3 linked regions of the Homo sapiens genome follow. The protein of the gene in region 3 interacts with the protein of the main gene of each other region in a pairwise test. Each region holds a gene or a part of one and is shown on either strand. Other genes may lie near its edges.

The links. Proteins that work in one complex are often made in the same cells at the same time.
Region 1: the proteins of CASP10 (region 3) and PHF20L1 interact in a two-hybrid assay, tested with the Homo sapiens proteins (one large-scale study listed by BioGRID and IntAct).
Region 2: the proteins of CASP10 (region 3) and ECE2 interact in a two-hybrid assay, tested with the Homo sapiens proteins (one large-scale study listed by BioGRID).

The regions. Positions count from the first base shown.
Region 1 is NC_000008.11:132,841,388-132,844,887, reverse strand, and holds part of PHF20L1 (PHD finger protein 20-like protein 1), read right to left. Parts: intron 2,374-3,500; coding exon 2,013-2,373; intron 736-2,012; coding exon of another isoform or gene 733-735; coding exon 570-732; intron 1-569.
Region 2 is NC_000003.12:184,286,022-184,289,521, reverse strand, and holds part of ECE2 (endothelin-converting enzyme 2), read right to left. Parts: intron 1,686-3,500; coding exon 1,575-1,685; intron 86-1,574; coding exon 1-85. Other genes in the region: EEF1AKMT4-ECE2 readthrough transcript protein, read right to left, coding at 1-85, 1,575-1,685. UniProt on the Homo sapiens protein: Converts big endothelin-1 to endothelin-1. Also involved in the processing of various neuroendocrine peptides, including neurotensin, angiotensin I, substance P, proenkephalin-derived peptides, and prodynorphin-derived peptides.
Region 3 is NC_000002.12:201,207,141-201,210,640, forward strand, and holds part of CASP10 (caspase-10 isoform 1 preproprotein), read left to right. Parts: intron 1-934; coding exon 935-1,043; intron 1,044-1,149; exon of another isoform or gene 1,150-1,327; intron 1,328-1,929; coding exon 1,930-2,422; intron 2,423-3,500. UniProt on the Homo sapiens protein: Involved in the activation cascade of caspases responsible for apoptosis execution. Recruited to both Fas- and TNFR-1 receptors in a FADD dependent manner. May participate in the granzyme B apoptotic pathways.

The DNA.
Region 1 (3,500 bases), on a different chromosome or scaffold from region 3:
GAACAACATGGACTGAGAATCAGGTAGTCTAAGTTACTCTAGTTTCTCAACTATAAAGTAGTGATAGTATCTTTCTTGCCCACTTTTCAGGCCTCCTGTGTGATGACACAATTTTAAAATATAAAAGAAAACCACTTAAGGTTTACCTACTTAACTTTGTAGAAGTTTTTGTTAATTTAACAAGTGCTAACCAAAGTAAAAAATATTCAAAATGTTTTCACATTTCAAACATGCTTAAATTCCTTATGTTGACTTCCAAAGAAAGCTTAGTTCAATGAAACTAATCAATTTATTCCATAAGTGATCTATCTGGAGCCTGGCAAATAGACAGTATTTAATAAATATCCACCTTAAAAAAGTAAAAACAACCTAAGGTCATACCCGGTCACATTGTTTTAAGCGTAAAAGATCCCAAATGTGTTAAATACAATACAAAGGGAGTAATAAAGCCCCATCGGTATGGAGAGTATCTGCAGTTTTCATCCCATAATTTAAGAATTTTAAGTAACTTCTTCATAGTAACAATAAATTCACTATAGTAACTGTATTTTAGTTCTTTCTTAAATTACCATCGACTTCTTTTTCTATTAGGTCCATCCTGCTGGTAACTTCGTTCTGCACATTTTCTATGTGTGTAAGGAGATTGAGCTGCCACTGAAGATGTGAGTCTCCTGGGTCTTCGGTGCCCTTTTTATCATTATAAACAAATACTGTATTCCCTTCAGCTGGATTCTTCTCCAAAGGACCATTGGAAAATAAACACAAAGAACGGGATGAAATGCAGTCATTGAGTTAAGGATACAGGAAACACCTCATCACTGGTAACAGTTAGTGAGATCCAATCTGACTCCAGGGGTATCTTTAAAGAAGTACTGCTACATAACCAAATTCCAGCTGGTGGTTCTTAAGAGCTGATGCACCCACCACCTCCCTCCACTATGCCTCGCATGGTGCTACACAGGCAAGAAGGCTTCAATAAAATGCGCTAAATAAATGAAGTCACTAATTCTATTGTGTAATTAGAATTCCTGATTAATTTAGACTGGCCTCTTCCTCAATTAATCTCAGCTGGTGATATAAGTGGACATAAGAGTGGAAAGCAATGATGAAAAGAAATCAAGAGCGTTTCCAAAGACCAGTATAAAATCTAATTAACTACAGACTGGACTTTACTGTTATAGTACAGTAAATCAATGAAGGGAGGGAAAGGCAAAAACCTTTTACAAGTTTCAAAAGTACAAACTGCTTCACACACACACACACACACACACACACACACACAATGTGCGTTTGGATTTGCCAGAGATAACTCATTTTGCACATGGGATATTAATTAAACAAAATAACTTACCACAAACTTTATGATACGAAATACAAACGTTCCAATTCACTTAAGTACTTATTTATGGTAATTACTTGTTAAGGAATGCAGAAAAAAAACATCTAATTTTAAAGTGGCCTCATTAATTGAAAATCAGTAAAAAATAAAGGTACATTTCTAAGATAATCCCAGTGAACAGGAAATAAGTTTATAGATGTCCAATGCACATAGATCTGTCAGAATTCACCTTACTGAATAGTGGGATGCATTGACAAACATGCTAAAATTTTTTAAACAGACAATTAGAGTGCCACCTTTTATCTAACTCACATAAAGAGGAAGACAAATCATTACACCCATATGTACTTTCACATTCTTACACACTGACATTTTCGTTTTGAATACAATGTGGTTCATTTTTTAGAAGCATCGAAATGTACTTATACAATTGAAACTTTTGTTAGAGTAACAGTTTATTGAATTACTACAATTCTGAATTAGGAGATAATCAAATGTTCAAATGGCCAGTGTTTTCCTGTAGAGAAAACAAAAAAATCTCCTTACTTTAACAAGGTACTGGGGAACTTGGAAATACAACTAAAATCTGGGAATTCAGTATGCCTTATTTTATAAAATTTTCCTTTGTTCTTCTCTCATAGTTTCCAAGCAAAGAAAAATGAACTAGTTTTACCTTTTCAGGCATTCCATGTTCTTTTGCTGAGTACTGTAAACTGTTTTTACTTCTCATGTGGAATTCTTGTTCTTCTTCCAAACTACTAACATCATCATCATCTGAGCTCCCAGGGTCTGCGAGAGATTTACAGTCCTGACCAAAACTTTGTGGCTTTTGATAGCTATGCTCACTTGTTATATAAGTTCCTTCCATTTTTAGGGGCAAACGAGGTGGTTCTTTATGGTTCTGTACATATTTCTTTTCTTCTCGATTAACTGTGTCTTGAGCTATTTTTTTCTCCACCCCAGCTATTATTTGATCTTGGTCTTTTCGCTTCCCGGAACAAGCCCAGAGATGAAGGTCAGGATGATGTTTATTCCTTAAAACAAAGTTGGAAAAACAGCAGTTCAGAAAAAAAAAAAAATCTATTAACAAGCTGAATACAATGATCTATTTCAGAATTAGGTTAGGAGGACATCTAGGACTCAAGACAAAAGCAAAGGTAATCTTTAAATTAACTCCCTCCATGATTTCATCCAAAATTTGAATCTTCTCAATTAAAGAAATAATACTCAGAAAAGCAATAACAAATTTAATTGTGTTGATAGTTCACATCATCATTTGATACATGCATTTCTTTTTCTACTGATTTGTCATTGTCATTTTCATTGTAAAATTTGAAAAACTTTAATGTGAGCATATTTTAAAAACTTTTATTCAGTCAAAAAGTGATAACTCCTGATGACAAAAATCCTAAATATAAATGCACAGAAAGTAAAAATTTCCTCTCCCATGGCAAACATAAATAACTGAGGTATAATCTTCCAGACTTTTTCTGTATACCTAAAATTAGTTCTTAAATGGATAAGTATACACATCTTCTTGTGACACATCCAGGACACATACAATCTGCCTTTTTGTACGTAACATGCTAGGGGCATCTTGCCATATCATGTCATACAGATAGATTTCCCTTACTTTTACTCTAGGGCTGAAGAGTTACAAATGTACCAGTCGAGCCAACCAATTCCCTACCATTATATGTTTGTGTACCTGTGTGTGTCTTTGCACACAAGTCAGAATATTTCAGTCAGATAAATTTCTAGATATGGGATTGCTGGATAACATGCACATTTATTTTGATAGGTACTACCCAAGTGACCTCAAAAGGGATTATACTAATTACAACCCCATCAACAATCTTTGATAATGCCCATTTACTTCATCCTCACTGAACATGTAAGCATGATATTGTACAGTTAATTCTGCAGTAAGTAAAACAGGAATCCAATCATCAGAGCTGAAGTGAAAGGGCATTCGGGAGATATAAACCTTTCAAAAGGCTCAATAATGTTTGCATATTAATAATTTCCAAATTAGATACATACTGAGTCAAATTAGTTCTCTTCCAATAATACTCAAGTATTGTTTCTGAAATTATAAATTTTATCATTTGAATCCCTAGTAGTTTAATATTCAGAAAATACTAAAACACTCAATCAGTAA
Region 2 (3,500 bases), on a different chromosome or scaffold from region 3:
CCTGGCGGGTCTTCTCATCCATCCAAACCAGCTGTCCCAGGGCCTCCTCAAATGCGGTCCGGATTTCGCTGATCATCCCCTCTGCCTGGGAGGGAGGAGGTAAAGTCAGCCTTCCCCTGCACTGAATGCATCCCTGCCCCACCCATCCACCCTTGGTGCCCCATCCCTGTCCACCCAGGGGAAATGGGAACGTCTAGACTAAAGAAATACGGCTGAGCACCTGGAGACGATGAGAAGGAAACACCATTTGTAAAGGTACTGGGATTGTGGCTGGCTTTTTTCTTAATTAAGTACACATTTTAATTGACAATAAGTTCATCAAATTATATTATAATTTAATATAGTGCAATGATTTTTTTTTTTTTTTGAGACAGAGTCTGGCTGTGTTACCTAGGATGGAGTGCAGTGGCGCAATCTCGGCTCACTGCAACCTCCGCCTCCCGAGTTCAAGCGATTCTCCTGCCTCAGCCTCCCAAGTAGCTAGGATTACAGGCTCCCGCCATCATGCCCGGGTAATTTTTGTATTTTTAGTAGAGCTGGGGTTTCACCATCTTGGCCAGGTTGGTCTTGAACTCCTGACCACGTGATCCACCCGCCTCAGCCTCCCAAAGTGCTGGGATTACAAGCGTGAACCACCACGCCCAGCCTAGTGCAATGATTTTTATCTGATTATGAAAAGAGGACATTCACAGAAAATTTGGAAAATTGAGAATTGAAGAACAGACCAGTTATAAAGCACTCATTCATAGATAAGTTCTTTTAACATTTTGATTACCCACTTCTAGAGTTTTTCCCTCCCCTGATATGCATATAAAATATGGAATTATGTTGTATAGGGTATATATTTTTTGTAACCTACTTTTTTTGCTGAAAGATATATCAGCCATTTAAGGATCCTCACAACCCATCCTAACCACAATTTATTTTTCCTTTACCCTATAGTTGGACATTTAACCTGTTCTCATTTTCTGCTATTATAAACAACATTGCCATAAAAACCATAAACATCCTTACAGGTAATACTTTAAGCACATCCATTATCATATCCTAATAAATAAATATTTCTTCTAGTTATATAGTTAAACATAAACACATAGACAACTTTAAAGGACTCTTATAATCCCACTGCCCAAAGCAGCACTACTTCATTTGTTCATCAATTTACATCCAGTTGTTTTTCTTTTCTTTTCTTTTTTTTTTTTTTTTTTTTTTGAGACAGAGTTTTGCTCTGTCGCCCAGGCTGGAGTGCACTGGCGCGATCTCGGCTCACTGCAACCTCCGCCTCCTGGGTTCAAGTGATTCTCCTGCCTCAGCCTCCCAAGTAGCTGGGATTACAGACACCCGCCACCACGCCCGGCTAATTTTTTGTATTTTTAGTAGAGACCAGGTTTCACCATGTTGGCCAGGCTGGTCTCGAACTCCTGACCCCATGATTCACCCGCCTTGGCCTCCCAAAGTGCTGGGATTACCGGCGTGAGCCACCGCGCCTGGCTCCCGTTGTTTTTCTATATGTCTGCACATACATGAACAGTCAATTTTGAGGGCATAGTGTTGAAAGAATCTTGTAGACTCACAATTTCTTTGCTTTGCCGGTCAAACGTGGCCTTCACGAAGAGGGACCCCAAAGCAAAGCCAAGGGCGTCATCCGTGTTGGAGATGCAGGTCTGCCACCTCGGCACACAGGACTGTTAAAGGACAAAGAGCCAGGACCCTAGAGATGGCTGTGTCCTCCAGTCAGAGGGCCTTTCTCTGTCACTGGGGCTAGCAGCCCTTCTCAGCTCTGGACAAGAGTCCTGGGTTTGCTCAGTGCCACATCTGTCTTTTTTTGAGACAGGGTCTTGCTCTGTCACCCAGGCTGGAGTATAGTGGTGCAATCACTGCTCACTGCAACCTCTGTCCCCTGGGCTCAAGCGATCCTCCCACCTCAGCCTCTCGAATAGCTGGGACCCCAGGCACATGCCACCACACCCAGCTATTTTCTTTTGTAATTTTAGTACAGAAGGGGTCTCACCATGTTTCCCAGGCTGGTCTTGAACTCCTGAGCTCAAGTGATCTGCCCGCTTTGGCCTCCCAAAGTGCTGGGATTAAAGGCATGAGCCACCGTGCCCGGCCCACAACTAATTTTATATCCAGTCAGTCCCCCATGCAAGAAACCTGGGAGTCACTCAGCTTCCTCCATCTCCCTAACCCCCCACATTCAGTCTATCAGCAGTTTCTACTACTTTGACTTCTTTTTTTTTTTTTTTGAGATGGAGTCTCACTCTGTCACCCAGACTGGAGTGCAGTGGTGCGATCTCAGCTCACTGCAAGCTCCACCTCCCGGGTTCACGCCATTCTCCTGCCTCAGCCTCCCGAGTAGCTGAGACTAAAGGCGCCCGCCACCACGCCCGGCTAAATTTTTTGTCTTTTCAGTAGAGACGGGGTTTCACCGTGTTAGCCAGGATGGTCTTGAACTCCTTACTTCAAGTGATCCGCCCACCTTGACCTCCCAAAGTGCTGGGATTACAGGCATGAGCTACGGCGCCCTGCCTGCTTTGATTTCTTAATCATCTTTCCCATCCACTCAAGTGGACGGGGAAAATGATTACCACTTCCCTGACCTATAACACTATCATCTTGAACTCCTGAGCTCAAGCACTCCACCCACCTCAGCCTCCCAAAATGCTGATTACAGGCACGAGCCACCACACTCAGTCTGCAATTGCCTTTTTTTTTTTTTTTTTTTAAACAGAGTTTTGCTCTTGTAGCCCAGGCTGGAGTGCAATGACGCAGTCTCAGGTCACTGCAACCTCCAGGTTTAAGTGATTCTCCTGCTTCAGCCTCCCGAGTAGCTGGGATTACAGTTGCTTGCCACCACGCCCAGCTAATTTTTTGTATTTTTAGTAGAGATGGGGTTTTACCGTGTTGGCAAGGCTGGTCTTGAACTCCTGACCTCAGGTGATCCACCTGCCTTGGCTTCCCAAAATGCTGGGATTACAGGCATGAGCCACCAAGCCTGGCCTGCAATTGCCTCTTAACTGGACACCCTGACTCCATTCTCATCCCCGCTTCCCTGCTGCTCCCCTCCATCTTCCATTTAGCCACCAGAAATATCATTTCATACATAACCCAACTGTGTTTCTCCTCTCCATGCTACTCCCATGGAGCCCCATCTGTGAAAGAATCAAGGCCGGACTTCCCAATACAATATTCAGATCCCTTCCCAAGTGCCCCATGCCCACCTTACCAAACCCCGTCTCTCAGTTGCCCTCTTCTCAAGCTCATGCCAGAACGTGTGTAAAGCCACCATGCTCCTTTTGGCCTCTAGGAATTTGCACATGCCGTTCCTTGTCCCTGGAATGCCCTTCTCCCCGGCTTTCTTGGTGAACTTTTCCATCACATGGCACCTCTCAGAGAAGGCTTCTCTGATGCCCTTCCCCACCATCCCCCCAGGTGAAATGTGCTGTCCCACCTCTGTCCTATAGCAGAAAAGTCTTTCACTCAGTGTGAGCAGTTATCAC
Region 3 (3,500 bases):
AGTGCAAATGAGATTTATCCTTTGTCCTGGGCTCTAGGACTTAAAAAAGAATCTTTGAAATTTTATTCAGATCACAATTGTGCAGTAAAAGTGAGTTGCAGAGTAGTCAGAATCCCCAGTTTTTCAATATGTGACTTCAGAAATAATGTGGCATAAATACCCCAAGGGGTTTAGACTAGAGTATAAAAACATGGTTTTGGACAGGCATGGTGGCTCATGCCTGTAATCCTAGCACTTTGGGAGGCTGAGGTGGGCGAATCACTTGAGGTCAGGAGTTCAAGACCAGCCTGGCCAACATGGTGAAACTCTACCTCAACCAAAAATACAAAAATTATCGGCTGGGCGCGGTGGCTCATGCCTGTAATCCCAGCACTTTGGGAGGACGAGGTGGGCGGATCACAAGGTCAAGAGATCAAGACCATCCTGGCCAACATAGTGAAACCCCGTCTCTACTAAAAATACAAAAATTACCTGGGCATGGTGGCGGGCGCCTGTAGTCCCAGCTACTCGGGAGGCTGAGGCAGAAGACTCGCTTGAACCCAGGAGGTGGAGGTTGCAGTGAGCTGAGATCACGCCATTGCACTCCAGCCTGGGTGACAGAGCGAGATGCTGTCTCAAAAAAAAAAAAAAATTATCTGGGGGTGTTGGTGGGCACCTGAGGCAGGTGGATCCCTTGAATCCGGGAGGCAGAGGTTGCAGTGAGCCGAGATCGCGTCACTCACTCCAGCCTGGGCAACAAGAGTGAGACTCCATCTCAAAACAACAACAACAGCAACAACAAAATAACAACAACAACAAAAACATGGTTTAAACAACTGGCATGGGGAGATACATCCTGCTCTTCCTCACAGTGGATCCATTGGAGTGGTTGGTTAGAAACATTTAAGGCCCTAAGATAAGGATTCCTACTAAGTGGCTCTATCTATTCTTCAAGAGGGCAGCTGTGTACAGGATGAATCGGAACCACAGAGGCCTCTGTGTCATTGTCAACAACCACAGCTTTACCTCCCTGAAGGACAGACAAGGAACCCATAAAGATGCTGGTAAGAAAGTCTGGAACAGTTTATCAAATGCAAATTGGGGATCTTAAAATTATTTTTTATTTTCACATTTTCTTTCTGTGACTTTTATCTTCCATATACGTGTAAGGATGATATCATGTTTCTGAGCCTCTTATATATCCCTGGGGAGTCATCAGTCTGCTAAAGAGTGGCAAGAATCTTTGACTATTCACAATTCTGAATAGAGGAGAGCATGTACTGGGGGAGAGCCTGCTGGATTGGCACGAGACAACTTGGGCGTGAGCTCCAGCTCCACCACTAACTAGGTGTGTGATCATGGGAGAGTCAAGAGACCTTGGCTTCTTCAACTGTGAAACAGGATGAAACACTGGCCACTGCCGATTCTCAGGACTGTTGTGACAACACTGGGTATTACGTGATAGGAGATTCATTGTAAGATTTTATGGTTATGAAAATAAAAATAATCCAAAGCTTTAGGCTATTTGCTGTGCAAATTTTGTAACTATTAGCATTGTTTCAGTTTTTTTTTTCTTTGAGACAGAGTCTTGCTCTGTTGCCCAGGCTGGAGTGCAGTGGTGCAGTCCCAGCTCACTGCAACCTCTGCCTCCCAGGCTCAAGCCATTCTCGTGCCTCAGCCTCCCGAGTAGCAGGGATTACAGGCGTGAGCCACCACACCTGGCTATTTTTTGTATTTTCAGTAGAGATGGGGTTTTGCCATCTGGCCAGACTGTTCTCAAACTCCTGACCTCAAGTGATCCGCCTGCTTCGGCCTTCCAAAGTGCTGAGATTATAGGTGTGAGCCACTGTGCCCGGCCTTGTTTCAGTTCTTCATTTTGTTTTGCATCATTTTATTATTTCCCCTTTCTCTCTCTCTCTCTCTTTTTTTTTTTTTTTTGTTTTTAAACAGAGATCCTGAGTCATGTGTTCCAGTGGCTTGGGTTCACAGTGCATATACACAATAATGTGACGAAAGTGGAAATGGAGATGGTCCTGCAGAAGCAGAAGTGCAATCCAGCCCATGCCGACGGGGACTGCTTCGTGTTCTGTATTCTGACCCATGGGAGATTTGGAGCTGTCTACTCTTCGGATGAGGCCCTCATTCCCATTCGGGAGATCATGTCTCACTTCACAGCCCTGCAGTGCCCTAGACTGGCTGAAAAACCTAAACTCTTTTTCATCCAGGCCTGCCAAGGTGAAGAGATACAGCCTTCCGTATCCATCGAAGCAGATGCTCTGAACCCTGAGCAGGCACCCACTTCCCTGCAGGACAGTATTCCTGCCGAGGCTGACTTCCTACTTGGTCTGGCCACTGTCCCAGGCTATGTATCCTTTCGGCATGTGGAGGAAGGCAGCTGGTATATTCAGTCTCTGTGTAATCATCTGAAGAAATTGGTCCCAAGGTGAGAGCTCTTTTTTTTCTTCCATTTGTAATTAATTAGTTTTATTTATTTTTTATTTTACTCTCATTCAACACCTTTGGTAAGGGTGAGAGTTCTACGTTGTTCTATCCATGTACCTGTTCAACCATCTGCCTACCCTCCTGTTTATCTATTTATCCATCTATCCACCCATTCATCTATCCATCCATCTATCCACCCATTCATCTATCCATCCATCCATCTGTCCATCCATCCATCCATCCAGCAACCTTGTATTGAGTACCAGCCTGGACCTGGAAAGGAAGATACAGAGTTAAAAAAAGACAGAGTCCTTGCCCTCAGGTTGCTTACAAGCTAGAGGGATAGACAAACAAATAGACGGGGAAGGGCATCCCCAGCTGGTAAGTGCACATTGTGAAGTATAGGTGTTATGGGAACATGCAGAATGAGTACCTTGCCCAGATTTGAAGGATCAGAGGAGGCTTCTAGAAATGACAAATAGATGTTAGGTAAAGAATCAGGTGAAAGATGTGCTGGGCAGAGGGAATAGCATGAACAAAAGCATGGGGGCCTTTTATTTGTTCGTTTATTTATCACTCACTCTTACGTCCTGAGCACCTATGTGCTATCTTTGGACTTCTATTTGCCACTGCTCTGACAGCTTCCCTTCTGTCTCTGCCACATGCTGTCCTCTTGGCACCTTTAGCCATACCTAGAGGCCATGGGCTCCTCCATGAAAACGTCTCCAAAGTTGCCATCTCTGGCCCACTCATCTCTGAATTCCTGGGGGCAGAGACCCTGTTTCATTCAACTTTATATCCTCAGCCCCTGACCTGATATATTGTGAGCTTGTTAAACATTTGCTGGGCCAATGAATGACTTGCTTGAGCCTGTCTCATTAACATCCCGCTAGATATCCTACCTCTGTTTAGCCCTTGGACCTCACATTCAGCATGCATGTTTCTGAGCTCATCTTCCCAGCTCTCTCCAGGAGCTCCTACTCCTGAATTTCCATTTGAAGGAATGGCCATAGTGCTCTTCTGGGAATTCAGGATTGGAACCTTGAGTCAACTTTGCTTTTCTCTCTTCTTTACCAGCC